3 linked regions of the Homo sapiens genome follow. The protein of the gene in region 1 interacts with the protein of each later gene in a biochemical or structural test. Each region holds a gene or a part of one and is shown in the gene's direction. Other genes may lie near its edges.

What was found. The genes of interacting proteins can lie anywhere in the genome.
Region 2: the proteins of ASAP1 (region 1) and NPHP1 form a complex in vitro, tested with the Homo sapiens proteins (one study listed by IntAct).
Region 3: the proteins of ASAP1 (region 1) and HCK form a complex in vitro, tested with the Homo sapiens proteins (one study listed by IntAct).

The regions. Positions count from the first base shown.
Region 1 is NC_000008.11:130,440,670-130,448,216, reverse strand, and holds the start of ASAP1 (arf-GAP with SH3 domain, ANK repeat and PH domain-containing protein 1), read left to right. Parts: upstream 1-4,542; 5' UTR 4,543-4,757; intron 4,758-7,547. UniProt on the Homo sapiens protein: Possesses phosphatidylinositol 4,5-bisphosphate-dependent GTPase-activating protein activity for ARF1 (ADP ribosylation factor 1) and ARF5 and a lesser activity towards ARF6.
Region 2 is NC_000002.12:110,202,008-110,209,343, reverse strand, and holds the start of NPHP1 (nephrocystin-1), read left to right. Parts: upstream 1-4,330; 5' UTR 4,331-4,375; coding exon 4,376-4,444; intron 4,445-7,336. UniProt on the Homo sapiens protein: Together with BCAR1 it may play a role in the control of epithelial cell polarity. Involved in the organization of apical junctions in kidney cells together with NPHP4 and RPGRIP1L/NPHP8. Does not seem to be strictly required for ciliogenesis.
Region 3 is NC_000020.11:32,047,879-32,055,247, forward strand, and holds the start of HCK (tyrosine-protein kinase HCK), read left to right. Parts: upstream 1-4,363; 5' UTR 4,364-4,546; coding exon 4,547-4,608; intron 4,609-6,337; exon of another isoform or gene 6,338-6,401; coding exon of another isoform or gene 6,402-6,403; intron 6,404-7,369. UniProt on the Homo sapiens protein: Non-receptor tyrosine-protein kinase found in hematopoietic cells that transmits signals from cell surface receptors and plays an important role in the regulation of innate immune responses, including neutrophil, monocyte, macrophage and mast cell functions, phagocytosis, cell survival and proliferation, cell adhesion and migration.

The DNA.
Region 1 (7,547 bases):
AAAGTGTTGGGATTACAGGCATGAGCCACCTTGCCTAGCCCAGAGCATGATTTTCATAAGGAATTAAACTCAGGGGTCTAAACTCAAGATACCCACCTAGCTCCTGGTCTGTGACTTCAGGATGTTCATGGTGGAACTTTAGAGTTCTGCACCTTGCCCTTCGGCCCTCTCCTTCAGCAGACAAGGTGGCCTCTTCCAGTCCAGGGTTCGTGCCCCCAACCCACTCTAGTTCCCATCTCCTCTCATCCTCAGTACCTGTTCTATCAATGAACCATCCCTTCCTCTCAACCTCACCTACCAACCCAGATGCTTGCCTGCCCACACATTTTTAAAGAAGCCTCTACCCTTACCTCCCACTTGCTAGACAGCTACATTTCTGAAAAGAGTTGTCCACGCTTACTGTCTCCCACTCCGTCCTCAACCCACCGCAATCTGGCTTCCAATCCCTCCACTCCATCGAGACAGCTCTGGTAAAAGTTATCAGCCTTCTCATTGTCAAATGAAATGAACACTTGCTTTCTGGTCCTTTCTTGATGAAATTTCCTGTGACATTTGTGAATGTTGCTCATTCCTTCCTTGTAAAAGCAATTTCTTCCCATGCCCCCTGGTTCTCCTCTGGTTCTCTTCTTCTCATTATTCACTCTCCCAACAGCTTGAACTGGCAAGAAAGACAGTGCAGGGTGGTGAAGAGCCTGGACTCCAATGCTCCTTGATATGGTTTGGCTGTGTCCCCACCCAAATTTCATCTTGAATTCCCATATGCATTCCCCTGCACAAACTCTCTCTCTCTTTGCCTGCTGCCATCCACGTAAGACATGACTTGCTCCTCCTTGTCTTCTGCTGTGATTGTAAGGCTTCCCCAGCTGCGTGGAACTGTAAGTCCAATTAAATGTCTTTCTTTTGTAAATTTCCCAGTCTCACGTATGTCTTTATCAGAAGCCTGAAAATGGACTAATACACTCCTCTACTCACTAGTGGTTGGCCTTGGGCAAGTTACTCAACACTCCTGTGCCTCAGTTTCCTCAACTGCAAGATGGTGTAAGGCTTTTTAGTCTCATTGTTTTCCATGTCTGAACATGCATCATGTTCTCAGATCATGCTGAACCTGGTAGAGTCACCCACATATATTATGTGTTCATGCTCAGTCTTTACTCAGGCACTTGGGAGTGCCCAGCCAGTATCTGTGAATATATGCATGAACACTACTCTGGATTGGGTTTCCCCAGAAGTATACCTTGAGACAAGGAGATGGGTGCAGTTACTTTATTTGGGATCCCAAGAACAAATAAGGAAGTGAGAAAGTAAGGCAAGGAAGGGAGAAGAGGCAAAATCAAAGAGTGACTTAATGAGGGAGTGACTGCTGGGGGCAACTGGACTCATTCCTACTGGGGAATTCCTCTGAGGAACTGCCTTGAGAGCATTTGAGAATTGATCTTCCTTAGGGAAGGGGAGGCTGACACATTCATCCACTGTTTGGTTAAGGACTGACCCAGGGCTGTTGGAAACTTCCAGGCTAGGCAAGATCCCACAGCCCTTGAGAAAGCCTCCTGGTAGAGAGGAGAAAGGGGGCCTGCTTTGGATAGACAGTTTCTCTGTACAGAGGGCAGCTCATTGCAGCTGCCGGTGAGCTCAGAGGTGGGCCCAGGGGACATGGAGCCGAGCATCACTAACACTCACGCTTGTTACTCTGGTTGGCAGGCCTGTGCCCCCTTATCTAGCTACATAGGTCCCATCTCCTCCTTGAAAGTTCGTTCAAGAGCACCCACTTCTTGGAAGCATTTTCCAACTTATCTCCACCCTACTCCACCTTCAATGTTCTGAATAGCCCTGGATACCCTGGACATGACTCTATAAGAGTACTTATCTCTCTGCTTACTAGATAGAGCTTTCCTGTCTTTCTTAGCAAGAATAGTTCTTTTTCATCATTGCACATGTAGGGCCCAGATTTTTTTAGCACATTACAGGCACTTAACCGATGCCTTAAAATGAATTCAAGTTCACCTTGCTCAGGGACCCACTCAGAGCAAGTGGTCAACAAATGTGGACTCCTTTCCTCCATCTGATTTAGGAGAACAGTCATCTAGTGAGTATACAATATGACAAATATATTCTTTAAACAGAAATGCCAAGGAAGCACAAAGGAGGGAGTAATTAACTGGGACTATACCAATGAGACTATAGTTACCTCATTTGACAGTCTTAATTACTTAGGTTTTTTTTTTTTTTTTTTTTTTTTTTTTTTTTGAGACGGAGTCTCACTCTGTCACCCTGTCTGGGATGCAATGGCATGATCTCAGCTCACTGCAACCTCTGCCTCCCGGGTTCAAGCGATTCTCCTGCCTCAGCCTCTGGAGAAGCTGGGATTACAGGTGCCCACCACCACGCCCGGCAATTTTTTGTATTTTTAGTAGACACGGGGTTTCACCATGTTGGCCAGACTGGTCTCAAACTCCTGACCTTAGGTGATCTACCTGCTCGGCCTCCCAAAGTGCTGGGATTACAGGCGTGAGCCACCGCGCCTGGCCTACTTATAGTTTTAGTTTTCCAGAAGCACTAATAGAGCCATCTGGTGCTCCTTCCACCGCACTGGGCGTTCCCTTTTGAATCTCTCCACCAAAGAGGAAGCCACAGGGAGCTGCGGGACCGAGTGAACCACCCTACCTCAGGCAGAGGTCCCATCTGCAACTCTAGTTTGTTTGCTTCTTTCATTTATTCAACACGTGTTTATCGATGGTCTCATATGGGCCAGCACTGTTCTAAGGAAACAGGCAAAGGTACTGCTGTAATGCAGTTTACCCATGCAGTGGGGAGAGTGGGGGGCAGATAAAAAATAAGCAACCAATCATGTAGGCTACATTAAACAGTGACAAGGGCTATGAAGCAATCAAACAGGATGCGCTATGTTTGGGAGAGGTGGAGGTGGGGTGTAGGTGCCAGAGACAAGCAGATCACATGGTTGGGGAAAACCTATCTGCGGAGCTGACTTCTGGGCTGTGAGCTGCGTGCCAAGAACAGCCATACAAGGGTTCTTCCAGGCAGAGGGGACGGCAGCTACAGTGGGCCTGGAGCAGGACCCTGGGACTCCTGGTGCCCAGCTCAGAGCTGTCCTACTGCTTCTGGCCACGGAGAGAGAATTGCAGAAAAGGAACAATGCTGGGTCTAAAACTGGTATCTGTTCCTTACTTGGAGTAAACGAGCTGGTACCCAACTTTCAGTTCCCAGCAGGTTCATTTCAGGCTTCTGTTTTCGCTCATGAGCATGTTGTTCCCTCTTCAAAGTCTGATTGGGTTTCAAAGGAATCTGAAACACTTACAGCAAAACCACCAAGCTGCATCCTCCAGGTAGACACCCCCGAAATGTGGCATTTCCGTGGGAAACCACAATGAATCACTCATTGGCTGCCCGACCTCTCTGCCCAGTCAGAGATTGATTTTGGTTTTCCCAAACTTTGTAAATCCGCTCCAGACTGTTTAACAACCCCCACTCCCCACTACACCCAGACTCTCAGATTAGGAGCAAAATCCCAAATTTTGTGAGGTTTTCTGTTTCGGATTTCACCAGAAGGGGGTCTGCCACAGCCACTAACCATTTCCTCTGCAGAGAGCCGTTTCTGAAATGCTGCAAAGAAAAACAATCACCCAATGATTAGGAGGGAAATTAAGTTCTAAAGAAAGACTACTGTCTCTGACTTTGAAAGTAGACATAGATATGCACAATATACATCCCACAAATTAAAATCCTCCTTTCTCTGATGTCTTTTAATGGTAATAATAAGGACAAGCATGGCTATCATTTATTTGGGCGTTTCCAATGTGCCAGTCCCTGTCTAAACATTCAGCTTCCAGATCAAACCTATGAGGGTGGAATTAACATCCATTTCATAAATGGAAACTGAGGCTCAGGAAAGTTGAGCGAGTTACTCAAGGTAACATGAGTAGAAAAAAGGCCATATTCCAACCGGACACAGAGCCTGCAGCCCACACAATTACTCTCCATACTGTTCCTATACTATCCTGACTGGGAAGGTCCTGTTCCCTTGGCACTGGGCAAAAATAAAATTATAAGAGCAGAGAGGAAGTGGTGAAAGGGGGCAGCCTGGTGAAATCATTCCTTTACTGAAAATAGGGGTAACGGCCAGGACAGTGCAGGTCCATCCTCTGCAGATGGAAGACAGGCACGTCCTTTGCCGCTGTCCCGGCCTTAGAAAGGCACCTTCCGCGTCCAGGGTTTTCTGTGGATAAATCCCACCCCTTCCACCTCAGGCGGGGAGGAGGCCGGCCGGCCGGGGCATGGGGCGGAAGGCGAAGGACGCCCGACCCCGGCCGAGGTCTGGGGCCCCTCCCACGCCCCCCTCGTGGCTGCCGGCGGGCCAAGGGTTAAGCGAGGCGGGAGCCCCCGGCGCGGAGCGGCTCGGGGCCGGGAATGCTTAGTCAGGATTCCGATTTCCTGTCGAAGTGTTTGGATTTCCTGAAACCCGCGCCCTCCGCCGCCGAGCGGGATCGTGCGAGCCGCTCGCGTCGCCGCGGCCTCCTCCCCCTCGGCACATGGTCGCCCGCCCCTTCCTGCGCCGCGCTCGGCTCCCGCGCCTCGCCTGGCCTGGCCGCTGCCGCGGGCGAGCACTGTGCGCTGGGCAGCCCCGGGCCCGCGCCTCCCGCCCAGCCGGCGCTTCCCGGTCGCAGTTCGCTTTCCCACCCGAGAGCCGCGAGCGCCCGGCCGAACCCGCGATGGAATAATGCCCAGCGGCCCGCCAGGTCCCGGTGAGTTGCGGGGCGCTCGGGCGCGCTCGGCGGGGCCGGGCGGAGTCGCCCACAGTCGCGGGCGCCCCCTGCCCAGTCTCTCGCGCGAAGAAGGGCGCCGGGACGGGGCGCGGGGCGGGCTCCCGGCTCCTCTCGCAGCGGGGTGTCCTTCTCCGCGGGGAGGGCGCCGGCCCTGGGCTGGGGCGTGTGCGGGACGCGCGGCCAGGCTCTGCGGGGCCGGGCGAGGCCGCCCGGTGGGGGGGGGAGGTCTCCTCGCCTCCAGCTCGGGAGAGGGGGCCCCTGCAGTGGGGCCGGGGACGGGGCCCGCCCTGGGGGGTTTCGCGTCCCCCTCCGGGGGAGGGCCCGGGACGACGTGCTTGGCGGCCCGGACCCCGCCGATGGGGCGCCCTCCCGGCATTGTCTCTGGTGCAGCCGAGGAAAGTTCCCCGCGGCCCCCGGCCCCTACCCGGACCCGGCGCTGCTTGGCAGGCCCCAGGCCACTTGCCTAAAGCAAAAGAAGAGAAACGAAAGGGAAGGGGGTGGGGGGAGTCCTACTTGGAGCTTGGGGTTGGCTCCTGGGCGGACCGTGAAGTGGCTTGTGTTTTCTGCTTGTACCATTTTGGGACCTGCTGCGTTTTCTGAGAGCGACATGAAGTTTCAAAGAAAAAAGAAACTTGCCGGTGTCCGGTTTTCTGCGGTTTGATACATCCCAAGAGGTTCATCTTGGGCACTTCTAAAGCAGTTTCCTTTAATAATGTGGTTTTCCAGTAGCTCAGGGAGAAGGATGGTCAACTGCAGACCATCATCGTTAACTTGACCTCAACTTTACCTGTACTCGTCAGGAAAGCAAAAGAACTTTCTCTCGCATTTTCCCCTGTCTACTCTGTTAGGTTATCTTGGCGTGATTGATTCTGGGATGACATCAGGACCTGGATTGCTGAGTAATGTTTTGGGATTGTAAAAGCTTATCAGTTTTTAGGCCAGGGTTATCTGTATTGCAACCTTCATCCCAAAGCCTTTCTGTTTTGCAATTGTAGCGCGGCCAGATAGCTTTAAGAAAATGCGGGTCTTCTGGAAACACCCAGTGAACAGTTTGGAAAGAAAAAGATCTTTGAGAACAACTGATTCACCCCCTTCAGAGAAGGCCCAGAAAGGTGACCTGACTTGCCCAAGATCACATGGCCAGGAGTAGTTTCCACTTCTTCAGGCTCAGTCCCATGCCCCTTCTGTGTTAGATTTTGATCTGTTAGCCATGAAACAGATTTGGAAACGTCTTCTTTGCGTCACAGCCTTCACCACTTTAGTGCCTTCTCTTCTGTCCTGTTAATGCTGCTATTTTTGAGATATGCACTTATTTCAAACTGCATATTTTGAGATAGGGAGTTAAAAAAAACAAAAATCACCTAACGCCACTAAGTGGATTTGGAGATTCAGCTACCAAATGGATTTGAAGTATAAAATGAGTGGCTTATTATACGGGGAATTACTTTCCCTATCCCATTCTTTTGTGCAAAATAGAAACTCCCAGGTCCAAAAAAGGGCAGTATCTTAGCACATAATGTACCCTCTGATGTTCTCTAGACTTGATTTTCAGCCCTCCTGTTTCTTGTGAGCTAAGCAGCCCATCTATTTTTCTCATGAGAGCTCTGAATGGCTGGTTTTTCATTTTTAGTATGTGATAATGTTGGAGAGAAAGGACTTTTCGCAAGCTTGCCATTTGGTGAGGGAAATTGAAATTCTCTACACCTCCCCAGTCCTCACCAGCCACAGCGAGCCAGATTTTCAAAATCAGTGCAAGCCTGGCAGGCCCAAAGATGAATGTGTGCATTCAGATTGAGCCCTCCCTTGTGAAGACTCACGTCCCAGCTGGCATCTCCATGCTGCACCTAGGTGACTGAAGTCTAGAGGAAAGAAGGGAACCCCAGTTAGCTAGGACAGTGTTGTTCCTGCCATTTCCCCACCTAGGTCTCAGCCGTATTTGGATCCTGCTGCTCGGTTCTCATTTTTCCCTGCCGTTTTTTCACCCAACCACTGCTGTATCTGGCATGGGCTCCGGAAGGTCTTTTCTAGGAGACTGCATGAGTGATCCCCACGTGAGCAATAGTAACAGTCACCCCATTTATTAAGCACTTGCTGTATGCCCTAGACATGTTACCTCCTAAGAAGTCCTAAGGAGGAGCGGAAACTTCTTGGGGAGCCTTGCCCAGAAAGGACAGCACATCTCAGATTTATCTGGAATCGAGTTTTTCTTTCATGCATCCAGTGAAACATTTGCTAAGTGGCTTCCCTGTGGGAGGTGCCAGTCCTGCAAAGATGAATAGGACCCTGTTCTCAAGGCCTTCTATTTCCAGCCTCATCTTTCAATGTCAGCCTCACACTTTCTCTTTTAATTCATCAATTGAACAACCATGCATTGAGCACCTGCGCCATGCTAAGCCCTGTGTGGAGTCCTGATGATACAGTGGTGGACGAAATAGACCTGGCACTGCCCTTCTGGAGCTTGCATTCCTCTGGAGGAGATGAGCAACAAGGAAGAAGCAGAAGAAACAACCTCTAACAGATGAGTGATTCCTTGTTATCAAGGAAACAAACCTGGGACCAAAGTAGGGGCTGGTGGCACAAGTTGGTCCTAGTTTTGGAAGGGAAAGCCTTTCTGAGATTGGAAAATGGAGAAGGAACTGGCCAGGCAGAGAGATTGCAGGGGAGGGCCTTCCAGGCAGAGGGATGGGAATGTGCAAAGTTGACTATGCACAAAAGAGCTTGGTGTATTCCAAGGAGTGAGGGAAGGCAGGGCTAGAGTGTAAGGGAGAG
Region 2 (7,336 bases), on another chromosome or scaffold:
GTCTCACCCTTCCAGTTAACCTCATAAGTCATCCTGGGCTCCCTGGTCAGATTAGACTCCATCCCTTCTTGTACATTTACCTTCACCACTGCTTTTGCTCTTTTGAGCCACTGAACTTGAAAGAAAGACTTCACCTTTCTCACTTGGCTCACTACAAATTCGTTCTATTGTGACTGCATCTGTCTCATTTCTTAGCACCTGAGTTCCTGAAACTCCCAGTTTTCTTGATGCCTTTCATTCCTAGTAGATCAACCATATGAGAAGATAAAGGCTGTTAGCTGGGAATTCCTTCATCCTACTCAATAGTTTTGTCTAGAGCAGTAGTTTTCAACAGGGCTACACATTATAATCATCTAGGGAGCTTTAAAAATACTAATTCTTGCATGCCACTGTCCAGACATTTTGATTCATGTCATTTGGAATATGGCCTGGGTATTAGAATTTTTAGTTCTTCAGGTGATTGTGATGGTCACCTGAGGTTGAAAACTACTGTTTTTGAAGCTCTGTCTCATTAGGTTTCCTTTACCAGGAGAGAAGACACACGGGCCCTTTCCAAGGCTGTCTCCTCTTTGGCCTCTGCAGAATTCTGCATCTCCCTCAGGACCTTTCTTGTTCTCCAGTACATCATCTCTGTTGCGTCTGCAGTCTCTGCCTGCTTTCTATTTACAAATGCATATTTTTTCTTTTCTTTTTTTTTTTTTTTTTTTTTTTGAGACGGAGTCTCACTCTGTCCCCCAGGCTGGAGTGCAGTGGTGTGATGTTGGCTCACTGCAACCTGTGCCTCCCGGGTTCAAGCGATTCTTGTGCCTCAGCCTCCCCGAGTAGCTGGGATAACAGGTGCCTGCCACCATGCCTGGCTAACAAATGCATGGATTTTGACTTAAAATTTATTTTAGTTGATGTTATCATTTGCCAATATTTTCTTTCCAAATATTTTGCCCATTGGTCTGCTGTGATCTGCCCTCTGCACCTTCCAGAAACATTAATATCTATGGCTCTTCTGAATCCTCACATTTTACCTTGAGGGTATTTGATGAGGCCACTTTGTCCCTTGAAATTCTCCTTCCCTTGCTTCTCTAATACAAAAGTTTATTGAGTTTCCAAACTGCTACTATTGCTGCCTTTCTCAAGTTCCTCAAACTTTTGCCTTGGTTCTCTGCCCTGTCCTCTCCTGTGATTACCCTAGCCATTCTCTTGGCTTAACTAGCACATCCAAGCAGAGCCCCCTCCCTCTGATCCTTTCCTTCAATTCCAGCTTCACCCTTTCAGCTGTCTAGTGGACATATTCAATGCATGACCTTACTGTAGAGCTCAGTGTATTTAATCATAAGCTGTTCATTTGGCGGGGAATTCTGTACACCAGGTAGCACTTCTGTGGTAAGTGGTTGGTACAATTTTCATGTTTCTAGTCTATTACTGTAGCTTGGAAGCTCTTTGAGAGCAGTATTAAACATCTTGTACCACAGGCCTAAACAGTGCCTTGCACCAAGGTATATATTTGTCATTTTTATTTGAGGTGGATTGTTTTCTTTTCTTTTCTTTTCTTTCTTTCTTTCTTTCTTTTTTTTTTTTTTTTTTTTTTTTTTGAGACACAGTCTCACTCTGTTGCCCAGGCTGGAGTGCACTGGTGTGATCTCAGCTCACTGGAACCTTCACCTCCCAGGTTCAAGTGATTCTCCTGCCTCAGCCTCCTGAGTAGCTGGGATTACAGGCATGTGCCAACACACTTGGCTAATTTTTGTATTTTTAGTAGAGACAGGGTTTCGCCATGTTGGCCAGGCTGGTCTCAAACTCCTGACCTCAGGTGATCCACCCACCTCGGCTCCCCAAAGTGTTGGGATTACAGGCGTGAGCCACCGTGCCCAGCCTGAATTTTCTTTTAAGGCCCTAAAACTGCACACTTTCTCTATTCTCTTTGCTATAATCTTTTTATTGATTCCAAGTCGTCTTGTTCCACTGGTTCTGTCTACATTATGAGTCTCTTGGAAGCTGTTAAATTCTTTTTCAGTATGACCTGTGAGGAAGCAATTCAAAATTGTTACTCATTTTAACACACTGATAGAAATCATGATGAGTTTTATGAAGTAGCTTGCTCTCAGGAGAAACATTGGCCATGGTTTGCTTTAGTTTCTTTTGGCTACCTCACTGCAGATCTCTCTTGTTTTAGGTTATGTTGTTTTTTATAATGGCATCAAGGTATAACTACAGAGGAGCAATGACTAGTATTAATGTGACTGTCCTGAATATTACAGTTATTAGTGAAAAATCATTAGCTGAGTAATCATATCATTTATAGCACACTGAATACCTCAGTGGTACTTCTCAAACTTGAATGTGCACATGAAACACTGGGGTATTGTTAAAATACAGATTCTGATTCTCCTAGGACTGTGGTGGGGCTGAAAATGTGAAAATGTGCATTTCTAACAAGGTCCCAGGTGGTGATGATGCTGATCTAGGAATCGCAAGTAATGAATACTTGTAACCGAAACAATATGATGCAAAAATGTATAAAGTCAAACATCTTCACACCTGAGGTGAATGAGTAATACACTTTTTTTGCACCTTTCCTTATTGTTCATATATTCACACATATTTAGGGGGGGTTATTAGTTTATTTTTACCAACAGAATTAAACTGTATCCATGATGCTATTAACTTTTCCATTTAAAATGTGGAAATCCCTATAAATAAGTAGATGCAGAATAATTTTTTCTAATTTATTTGTAGACTGAGAATTTCATAAGTAATAGCTGTATTTTAGAGCAATTTTTTTCGTTTTGCTCATCTCATCACCTGTAATTATTGATTTAATAATCCACTTAGAAATATTTTATAGCATTTTCTCATTTGTTGTAAAGATTTTTAATGGAAATCCTATGTTTGACTATTTAAGTGAACTAATTATCATAAGCCATAATAGAGAAATTAATTCAAAATAAGACATGAATTACAACAAAACAGACAATACCAAATCTTGCCAAGGACATAAAGAACAAAAACTCATACACTGCTGATAGGGTATAAATTAGTACCATTTTGGGAAACCAGGTAGTAGTATCTACTAAAGCTGACGTATAACATGCCTGTGACTCAGCAGTGTTATGTGTTTGCCAGAAGACTTGCACCAGGACGTTCTTAGCAGCGCTATTTATACTAGCCCTAAGCTGGAAACTGCCCACTTACCCAGCAACAGTAGAATCAGTATGTTAGGGTATATCATATGTGAAATATCAGCAATGAGAATGAACAGACTACAGACACACACAGTATAGATGCATCTCACAAATGTGATATTTAAAGGACAGGAGAAGCCACCACACAGTGCATAATTTCATTGTATAGTACAAAAAAAGGCAACACAAGTTTGTGCTCTTATAAGTTAGGATATTGTTCACCTTTGGTGTGTGGTAGAGAAGTGAGAGGGTTGAGAGGTTGGGGGTAGGCAAGGACTAGAAAGACAGGAAGAGTGTGAGTGGGCAGATAATGTTCTGTTTCATAATCTGGGTGCTGTTATGGGGTGGAGGGTTTTCAGAGCTGCACACAAAGTCTGTAGACTTTTCTCTGTATGTATTATACTTGAAGAAAAAAGTACATAAATAATGGTTCATCCTGGCCTGTGGCTGTTCTGAAGAACATTCATTTGTATTAATGGGGTCCATCATTTGGAAGGTGAGCCCCAAGCATCATCATTCTTATTCAAGTTCAATTTTGGTGTAGTGGAGTTTTGGAATTGGATTCATGGGATGCAGTCCCATATGGGGGAAACATGACAACCTTCCTGAGAGTTGATGTAAACTGGGAATCATAATGAGAACTAATAATTTGCTCATAGATTTGCTGTAGAACAATTACCATCCTTACAGAATTCAGAATTGACAACGTGCAATATTAGAATGAAATGAAACTTCAGTAGCCTAAATGGCAAAGAATTAAAAACTGCCTTTTGAAGTGACAGTATGGAACAGAACCATATATTCCATAGGAAAGCTATCCTTGGAGTTAATGAAAGAGTTTAAGATACTAAAATTGTATCTTAACATTAGCTTACAAAATTGGTATCAGAAAGCAAATGCCATAAAACAGGTATCCCAGCAAGAAGGTGGTGTTATTATTGATGTATTGTGGGGAATGTAGTTTCAGACGCCGGGGGACGTTCCCCTATCCTTAGGAATTGCCGAGGAAAAGTGACTCCCCCGGCTGTGACCTGCCTGGTGGCGTGGGATGACCACCGCAAGAGAACATTTGACCCTTCCCGGGACCGGCCCGGGCGGGGCGGGGCTGGGAGGCGGGCGCACATCGATGGCGTCACCTTCTGGCGCCGCCGGTTGGTTTCCCTGGCAACTGGAGCAATCAGAGCACCGCAGCCAGGGAGATGCTGGCGAGACGACAGCGAGATCCTCTCCAGGCCCTGCGGCGCCGCAATCAGGAGCTGAAGCAACAGGTATGGTCAGGCTGTGCAGAGGGCCCTGGGGCGGGCGACAGGCGGACGCAGCTGCGCGCACTGCGCCTTCCCACCGTGACCCCACCTAATCCTGGGAGCTTGCCCCCAACCTACTTACCTTCCCAGGTTGTAACGCCCCCTTACCCCATAACATTCCAGCACCCAACCCCGATTCAAACCCCTCCTGATCCCAACTCAACCCCCAGCCAAAGGCGAAACCTCCCAAAATTCGTGACCATCAACTAAGCGCCCCCTCCTCCGACCCTCACTCCCACCTAACGTCTCAACCTCCTACCCTAACAACTCACTAACCCACCTTATCTCCCAATCTAAACTTAGTGGTGTAACCATTTCCAACCCAACTCTGAGCCTAGCTCCTCTCCTCCACTTTCCAAGCCCATTTCCTTTCAGCCTTCCTCAAGTGGAGATTATTATTGCCTCCGTGAACTCAAGCGAAATAGGTGTCAAGAAATAGTCTTAATATGCAAGAACATTAAGATCTGATAAATGAGCAAAGGAGGTGAACGAGAGAGGAAATACAAGTAACTCATAAACATACGAGGAATGTTAACTTCAAAGATACTCAAGTAATTGCAAAGCACATAAGGTATCACAAAAATGTTAAAAATCACAACACTCTGTCTTGAGGAAGGTGTGATGAAGCAGGCACATTCACTGCTCCCGTGTATAAGGTGCTTGTACAGCATTTCAGGAAAGCAGCTTGACAAGGTGTAACATATGTGTATGCACCTAGGCTCAAAAATTACATTTCCAGGGATCTGCTATGTGTAATAATTAGAAAGTAGGACAGAGATTGATGTATAAAAGTATTCATCACATTGTTACTTATATAATATACACAGAACAGCATAGAAGGGAACAGGCTAATATGGTATTTCTGTGTGACAGGATGCTGATGATTATTATGATTTTCTTTATTCTTTTTCATATTTATAAAAATTTTTAGGCCAGGTGTGGTGGCTCATGCTAGTAGTACCAGCTACTTGGGAGGCTGAGACAGGAGGATCACCTGAGCCCAGGAGTTCGAGACTAGCCTGGGCAACATAACAAGACTTGGTCTCAAAAAAAAAAAAACTTTTTAAAAATACACTGAGTTCTTATTAAAAATAAGAAAAAAGTAAATAGCAACCAGTGGGTTTATTTTCTGACATTTTAATTTCACTTTAATTTTTTTCATGTGATCTATTACCAAGTATTTTTCCACTGAGTAAAATTATTTTATAATCTGAGGCCGGTAAGAGATTCACTGATGCTCATATTTTATCCATTTTTGTTCTCTTGTTTAAAGTAAAAAGGATTTGGAAGGTAAATATTTAGGTGACTGTGTATTGGAATCACAGTGGTGCAACAAAAGCTAAATACTCTTCTGGTAGAAATAAAAAATAAAACTTGATGGGGCATTGACTTATGCTGAACTTCGGTGGATCTTAATATGGTTCTGTGTCTTATTTTAAAATTTCAACTTTTATTTTAGATTCAGGGGGTACATGTGCAGGTCTGTCACATGGGAACACTGTGTTATGCTGAGGTTTGGGGTACAGATGAGCCTATCACACAAGCAGTGAGCACAGTACCCAATAGGCAGTCTTTCAGTCTTCATTCCTCTTCCCTCCCCCACCCCACTCCAGCAGTCACCAGTGTCCATTGCTCCCATCTTTATGTCCATGTGTACTCAACGAGTGAGAACATATGGTATTTGGTTTTCTGTTCCTATGCTAATTCACTTAGGACAATGGCCTCCAGCTCCATCCATGTTGCTGCAAAGGACATGATTTCATTCTTTTTTATGGTTGCATATTTTTTCATGGTGTATATGTACCACATTTTCTTTATCCAGTCCACCATTGGTGGGCATCTATGTTGATTCCATGTCTTTGCTATTGTGAATAGTGCTGTAGGGAACATACACATGCATGTGACATTTTGGTAGAATCATTTCTTTTTTGGGGGTATATACACGGAAATGGGATTTCTGGGTCAAATGATAGTTCTGTTTTACGTTGTTTGGGAAATCTCCAAACTGCTTTCCACAGTGGCTGAACTAATTTTCATGCCCACCAACAGTGTATATGTGTACTCTTTTCTTGTCAGCCTCACCAGAATCTGTCATTTCTTGATTTTTTAATAATAGCCATTTTGACCAGTGTGAGATGGTACCTCATTGTAGTTTTAATTTGCATTTCTCTGATGATTAGTCATGATGAGTTAATTTTAAATTTAGTGGGACATTAGGAGAACCAGGAAAAGTTTTAGAAGGAAACTATAAAAATGATTATTAAAACAAACTATTAGAAAGATTATTCTCCCTGGAGAAATATTGGCTCTGGAGCCTTTTGATACCTTGACTATCTGGAAAGTTTGTTTTGATAGTATTAGCTAATTCTTCCCTGTCTTCACAGAGGACACCTGAAGCTGAATATGGAACAGATTTTCTATTCGGTGTCTGTAGGACAAGTAATCAACAGCCCCTCTGAGTCAGGCCTGTGATGACTGGCTCTATCACTAGGTGTGTGAATTTTGTAAATAACACTCAGATGGATGCCAAATTGCAAGAGTAGAGAAGAAACTAATGGAATTTTCTCTTTTTTCATCCACTTTATCTTCTCTACGTAATCTATAGAAAACAGACCAAAGAAGTATGTGCCTTTTTGGAGAGTATATTGACAAAGTTACATATAGTGTTAGTAAACAAACTACTAAGTCAAGAGAAACAAAGTCATGATACATTCAATACAATGGATACCACTCAGTAATGAGAAGGAATGAACTAATGGTACACACAACAATATGGAAGTATCTCAAAAACATGCTTTGTGGAAAGGTTACACAAGAGTGCTTACTGTATGAGTCCATTTATATAAAATTTCAAGA
Region 3 (7,369 bases), on another chromosome or scaffold:
TCCGACTTGACAGATGAGGAAACTGAGACTCAAAGAGGTGACAATCAAGTCACCTCTTTGTACAACATTACCCAGTTGATAACAGCAGTGCCAGGTTTGAACTCTAGTTGGACTCCTACGATGGAGCATTTAGCACCAGTCTTTTGTTTTTGTTTTTGTTTTTGTTTTTGTTTTTTTTTGAGGAGTTTTGCTTTGTCCCCCAGGCTGGAGTACAGTGGTACGATCTCGGCTGTCTGCAGCCTCCGTCTCCCAGGTTCAAGCAATTCTCCTGCCTCAGCCTCCCAAGTAGCTGGGATTACAGGCACCCACTACCACACCCGGCTAATTTTTGTATTTTTAGTAGAGACGGAGTTTCACCATGTTGGCCAGGCTGGTCTCGAACTCCTGACCTCAGGTGATCTGCCCACCTTGGCCTCCCAATGTCCTGGGATTACAGGTGTAAGCCACCACACCTGGCCCTTAGCACCACTTTTGTGGTCAGCTATAGTCTCCATGACAATGAATGAATGAATAATTGAGTAGACAAAATGTTTGCCACCCCCAAAGACTGGTAAGGGGGTGTTTTAGAATACAATTTGTAATTGTATAAATGTTATTTGGTGCAAATATGGGTTAGATGGGAACTTTTTTTAATTGAAAAGAATGATAATGCCAAATGTTGGCAAGGATGTGGAGCAATTGGAAATCATAAATCACTGGAGGGAATGCAAAATGGTGTAACCACTTCAAAAACCAATTTAGACCAGGCACAAAGGCTCACACCTGTAATCCCAGCACTTTGGGAGGCTGAGGCAGGCAGATGGCTTGAGCACAGGAGTTCAAGACCAGCCTGGGCAACACGGTGAGACTGTATCTCTACAAAAAAAAAAAAAATAAGCTGGGCATGGTGGTGTACCTGTAGTCCCAGCTACTCAGAGGCTGAGGTGGGAGGATCACTTGAGCTCAGGAGACAGAGGTTAAAATGAGCCAAGATCTCGCCATTGCACTCCAGCCTGGGTGACAGAGCAAGACCCTGCCTCAAAAAAAAAAAAAAAAGAAAAACAATTCAGCAATTTATTGCAAGTTAGACACACACTTGCTATATGACCCAGCAATTCCAATCCTAAGTATTTACCCGAGAGAAATAAAAATATGCCTACACAAAAACTTGTACATAAATATTTATAGCAGCTTTATTTATATAGCCCCAAATTGAAAACAACCCAAATGTCTCTCAACAAATAAATGGATAAACAAATAGTGTTACATCTATACTATGGAATACTACTCAGCAGTAAAAATGAACGAACTACTGGAACATGCAACAACATGGAAAATCTCTGAGTAAAAGAAGACAAACACAAAAGAAACATACTGTATGACTGCATTTATGAGAAATTCTAGAAAAGACAAAGCTAATGTATAATGGCAAAAAGCCAATTGGTGCTTACCTAAGGCTACCTAAGTGTGGGAGGAGTTGACTGCAATAGGACATAAGGGAACTTTTTGGGGTGATAGAAATGTTCTATATCTTGATTGGGGTGGTGGTTACACAGGTATATATATTTGCCAAAACTCATCAAGCTGAATATTTATGATGGTAGATTTTATTCACGAAATTATGTCACGATAAAGTTGACAGAAGCTTTGGGAACATACACAAGGATTTCAATTACAGCATTACTGTCAGGACAAAACATTTGGGAAACTGTCCATGAACAGGAACATGTGTCAGCTCTCTGGCTCTTTACTATCAGAATGGCAAACTTTTGAAAGGAGATGTAGCTGATGCTAATGCGGACCCTCCGATGCCCCCTGGGCCTTAAGTAAGAGCTGCACTTCTCTTCCTGGAGACCCTCTGGTGGCTGAAGCATGCACCAGGGAGGCCAAAATGCTGGAAGGTCAGTACCCCTGGAGTACCCCTCATCCGGTGTCCAACAGGAGTTGGTGTGTAAATGCCCCAGCTCCCTCGCCTGACAGGTGGAGTAACCCTGAAGTGGGTATATCTCCAGAGATCCCTGCAGAATTGAACTCCAGTTGCCCACAATGGTAACTGGCTTCATGATATTCCTTTTTACTGGCTTCCCTCCCTTCCCTGTCTCATCCACCTACTCCCCTACCAGTGTCTTCTGCATCTCCTAAATAAACTATTTTCACTTGGATCCATGTCCAGGGTCTGCTTCTGGGGAACTCAAATTAAGACCAGTGGATAATACCAAGGGTTGGTAAAGATAAGGGGAAATGATGGGAGAAAGAGTGGGGCAGTGGCGATTCTGCAAACACCTGTCATTCTTGGCAAAGCAAGTACTTAACAAAATTCTAATGTAGGACGATAAGGGGACGTGTATGAGGATGTCCACTGTGGCACTATTTACACTAGTGGGAAATTGTGTGCAATCTAGGTGTCCATGACTAGGAGAATGGATAAATAAAATGTGAAGGATGTAAACAGTGACTACACGTACAGCCGCTACCTTTGGCAACATGGCTGGATATTAACAACAGTGATGGGGGTGGCGGGAGGGAATGTACAAAAGTGAATAAGTAACATTAAACATACATTCAGAACATTATCTGTTTTTATAAAAAGCACATACAGACTAGGTGCAATGACTCACACCTATAATCCCAGTACTTTGGGAGGCCAAGGCAGGAGGTTCAGTTGAGCCCCGGAGTTCAAGACTAGCCTGGGCAATACAGCAAGACCCCATCTCTATTTTTTTTTAAGTTGTCTATGCCATACCACACCGAACACATCTGATCTTGTCTGATCTTGGAAGCTAAGCAGGATCAAGCCTGGTTAGTACTTGGATGGGAGACCCCCTCAAAATAGTTAGCACTGTAGGCTAAAGAGAAGGAAAAAAGGCCCATACAGGTACATATACCAAAAACATAAGAGTAGGGTCATTGTCTTTCTCATTCATGGTTCTTCCCCCCTTCCCCACCAGGGGACATTTTACAAATGTCTGGAGACATTTTGTTGTCACAACTAGGGAGGAGGATGCTATAGACAACTAGTGGGTAGAGCCCAGGAATGCTGTTAAACATCCTATCATTCACAGGACAGTCCCCCGCAACAAAGAATTACCTGGCCCAAATGTCAATAGTGCCAAATTTAAGAACCCCTGCATTCCCCAGCCCCCAGGACAGCTTTGCTGAATGAATTATGAATGAATGAATGAAGAAATGACTGTGGTCCTGATCAGCTGGTAGCAACGGGAATAGAGAGACGCGGTAGAATTCTTGTAGTTTTGGAGATTTTGGAGGTGTGTTACACAGCATTTAGGGTGATAGCCCCTGTCTTTTCCAGGAGAGGGTGTGTTCTGCCCTTGCCTGGAGCTGGGCACAATCCCATCCACTTGGGGCCTCAGTCACCCTCCAGCCCGACTCCTCCCCTCCCCCGACCACCTCCCCCAGCTTGGGAGTCCTCTGAGCTGCCAGGAAGCCAGGGTGGTTCCTTCGGGCAGGGAACTTTGCATGGCCATGGTGGTTCCTTCGAGAGAGGAACTTTGCATGGTGTCTGAATGGAGCAGGCCTGCGGAAGAGAAACCGCTGACCACAGACCTGCCTGGAAGTCTCGGGCCGCGGAGTTGGGGAGGGCCGGGCCAGAAGGGAGGGGTCGGAGTGGTGGGGAAAAGAGATCACGATGCTTCCGGGGTAGGGTAAGGCCTTTCCAGGGTGGGTTGGAATCTTTGAAGACTGTGGCAGGAATCCCTTGATAGGTGGGGTTAGGATCTCTGAAGGGCAGGGTTGGAATCTTTGGACCGGCGGTATAGACCCCTGGGTATTAAAACTCTTAGGCGGCGGGAGGTTAGATCGCGCAGGAGCAGGAGCGGTATTGGAACCCTGGGGTTTGTGTTCTAAATCTTAGGGCAGGGTTAGAATCCACTGAAGTGAGAGTTCGGATCCTTCCACTGGGCAGATTAGAATCTTTGGGGGCAAGTTGAGTTTAAAAATCCTTCAGAGGTGGGATTAAAAATCCTTTGGCGGGGCGGGGTTAGTATCTTGGGAGCCTTGGAGCGGGTGCTGGGGTTCTTAGACGGGCGGGTTCGAATCCCTAGGAGTGGGATTTGGGATCCTTTGGAGACTGGGGTAGGACGCTGGGCGGTGGGATGGGGAGGTGTTAGGGAAAGTGGAGCGGAAGGGATGGGGGTTCGCATCCTTGGTGGACGCGTTAGAAGCCTCCTATGGATGGTGCTAATATTTTTTTTCTCTTCGTGGAGGGTTTGGGATCCTTCTTGCAGGAGACGGAGGTTATGACCCTCGGGGAGCCGGTTAGGATCCTGGGGTGGCGTCTGAATCTTCGGGGAGGTGTTAGGACACTTGGGGCGGAGTTAGCCTCGCTCAGGGCGCGGCTAAGGCGCCCAGATGGCCTGCGGGCGCCACCACGTCCCTGGTCCCAGCTCGGGAGCACATCAGAGGCTTAGAGGCGAGTGGGAAGGGACTCAGACAGTGCAGGACGAGAAACGCCCGCGGCACCAAAGCCCCTCAGAGCGTCGCCCCCGCCTCTAGTTCTAGAAAGTCAGTTTCCCGGCACTGGCACCCCGGAACCTCAGGGGCTGCCGAGCTGGGGGGGCGCTCAAGCTGCGAGGATCCGGGCTGCCCGCGAGACGAGGAGCGGGCGCCCAGGTGAGTGCCGCGCACAGGGGACCGGGAATACCCGGCCCGCGAGGGGTCCCAGGAGGCGGAGGGAGCCCAGGAGCCTGGGGAGGGCTGGCTACGGGTGCGGCTGGGGGCAGCGAGGGGAGACGGAACGTCGGGGGAGCCGCGGGTAGCCCGGGGGATGAGGGGTCGACAGCGAGTGGAGGGTGCCCTAGGGAGGGGCGGCACTGTTGCGGACTGCTGGATTCCCGGGGAAGGGGACGCTCGGGCCCGTGCAGTGACTTTATCCACCACTTCTCTGGGCCGTCCAGGTTCCCCTTCTTGGGGGGGGGCGGGGATTTTTTTTTTAATTTAAAAAAGAAAAAGAAGGAAGGGATGGGGCTTCACAGAACCCGGGAAGGGGAAGGCCCTTACGGTTCCCGGTGGGGGCCGGGTCACGCCGGGTTGGCAGCCAGCTTGGGGAAGGGGGTAGTTGGGCGGAGGCGTGACGTGCGAGCCACACCCAGGCCGGCTGCAGCTGGTCGGCTCTCTGCCCCTCCTCCCACAACAGGTCTAGGTCAAACCCCCAAACCTCCTGGCCCCAGACCACACTGCATGCATGCCCTGTCTCTTTCCTCCTTGGACGAATTCTCCGCCTCCGAATTCGTTTCCTCATCTGTAAAACGGGGCTATGAAGTCTTTCTTGCAAGGATGCAGGAAATTGGAGTATGCGAGAGGTGGTGCGTGTGAGAGACAGGCTAGTGGGTAGCGGAGGGGGCTTCTAGGGGCAAACTGCCTGTTGGGGCTGGGGTAGAGGATTTGGCCTTTCTTTGCCTCTGTTTTCACAACTGCAGGATGGGGAGAGTAATAGTACCTCCTTCACAGGGTTGTTTAGAGGATTAATTGGGTACTGAAGGGGCCGGGCAGGGTGGCACACGCCTGTAATCTCAGCTTTTTGGGAGGCCGAGGCAGGTGGATCTCTTGAGGTCTAGAGTTTGAGACCAGCCTGGCCAACATGGTGAAACCCCGTCTCTACTAAAAGTACAAAAATTAGCCGGGCGTAGTAGCACACACCTTTAATCCCAGCTACTCGGGAGGCTGAGGCACGAGAATCACTTGAACCTGGGAGGTGGAGGTTGCGGTGAGCCGAGATCGCGCCACTGCACTCCAGCCTGGGCGACAGAGAGAGACTCTGTCTCAAAAAAAAAAAAAAAAAAAAAAAAGTTACTGAAGGAAAGCTTTGAGAATGCTGTCTGACAGTACACAGGCTTAATGTATGTTAACATTGCCCTAGCTAGACATATGGCCCCGTGTTCTCAGACTTTAGCCTACATCAGCATCACCTGGACTGCTTGTGAAAACAGATTGCTGGGCCGAATCCTAGAGTTTCTGATTCAGTAGCTCTGTGCAGGACAATGAGAACTTCCATCCCCGGTGATGCTGCTGCTGCTGATCCAAGGAGGACACTTTGAGAACCACTGGGGTAGCCTATGCCTGGCACAGAGAAAGGCCTCAATGCCTATCAGTTGCCTTATCCCATGGTTTTCTCTTTATGGTCCTTTTTTTTTTAGGGGAGGGGGTGACAGGTTAAAATACAGAAAAGTGAAGATAATAATATATTAGATGTCCCGAGAATCCACCATCCAGAATTAACAAATAATAGCATTTTGTTGTGTTTGTTTTGAGATTTTAAAAAATTAATTTACTAAAAGTAACAGAAAAAATTGAAGTCTCCCCACCTTGTATCACTCTCAGTCCTGTTTCTCTCCCTCCCCAGGGGCAACCGCTGTCATGAGTTACAGTCCTTCCAGGATGTGCCTCTGAAAATGGATTGCATATAAATGTACGCATAAACAACACGTAGGATTGTTTTGTGTGCTTTAAAAATGCTATCTATGCAGTGGTTCATGCCTGTAATCCCAGCTACTCGGGAGGCTGAGGCAGGAGAATCGCTTGAACCCGGGGAAGCAGAAGTCGCAGTGAGCCGAGATCGCGCCATTGCACTCCAGCCTGGACAACAAAAGCGAAACTCCACCTAAAAAAAAAAAAAAAAAAAAAAAAAAAAAAAAAAAAAAAAAAAAAAAAAGCCCGGACGCGGGGGCTCACGCCTGTAATCCCAGCACTTTGGGAGGCTGAGCCGGGCGGATCACGAGGTCAGGAGATCGAGACCATCCTGGCTAACACGGGGAAACCCCGTCTCTACTAAAAATACAAAAAATTAGCCGGGCATGGTGGCGGGCGCCTGTAGTCCCAGCTACTGGGGAGGCTGAGGCAGGAGAATGGCGTGAACCCTGGAGGTGGAGCTTGCAGTGAGCCGAGATCGTGCCACTGCACTCTAGCCTGGGCCACAGAGCGAGACTCCGTCTCAAAACAAAACAAAACAAAAAACTATCTAATTGTGAGACTTTTCTGCAATTCTGACAATGGGGATAGCAGAGGAGCATATTTGCCCCATCTTATCATTAAGTTGTCAAAATCTACCCAGGATGAGAAATAGAAAATAGAGGCCTCATTCATTCCTTCCAGCTGCTGTGGAGTATCCCAGCAGGTAACGACTCTACAGTATTTCTCTTTCCCCTGTGGATAAATACTCAAGTTGTTCCTAGGCGTTCACTACAACGAACAATATTGACAGGAGCATCCTGGATGTGTAGCTTTCGGCCCATGTACAGGTGGTTCTTGAGGAAAACACCAAAAGGCTGGATGGCTCCCCAGAGAGGGCACCTGTCACACTCCCCTTTGTGTGAGAGGAGTACTGTAGCCCAGAAGGGTCACCAGGGACTCTGGGGCAGAGAAGAGAGAAGAATGT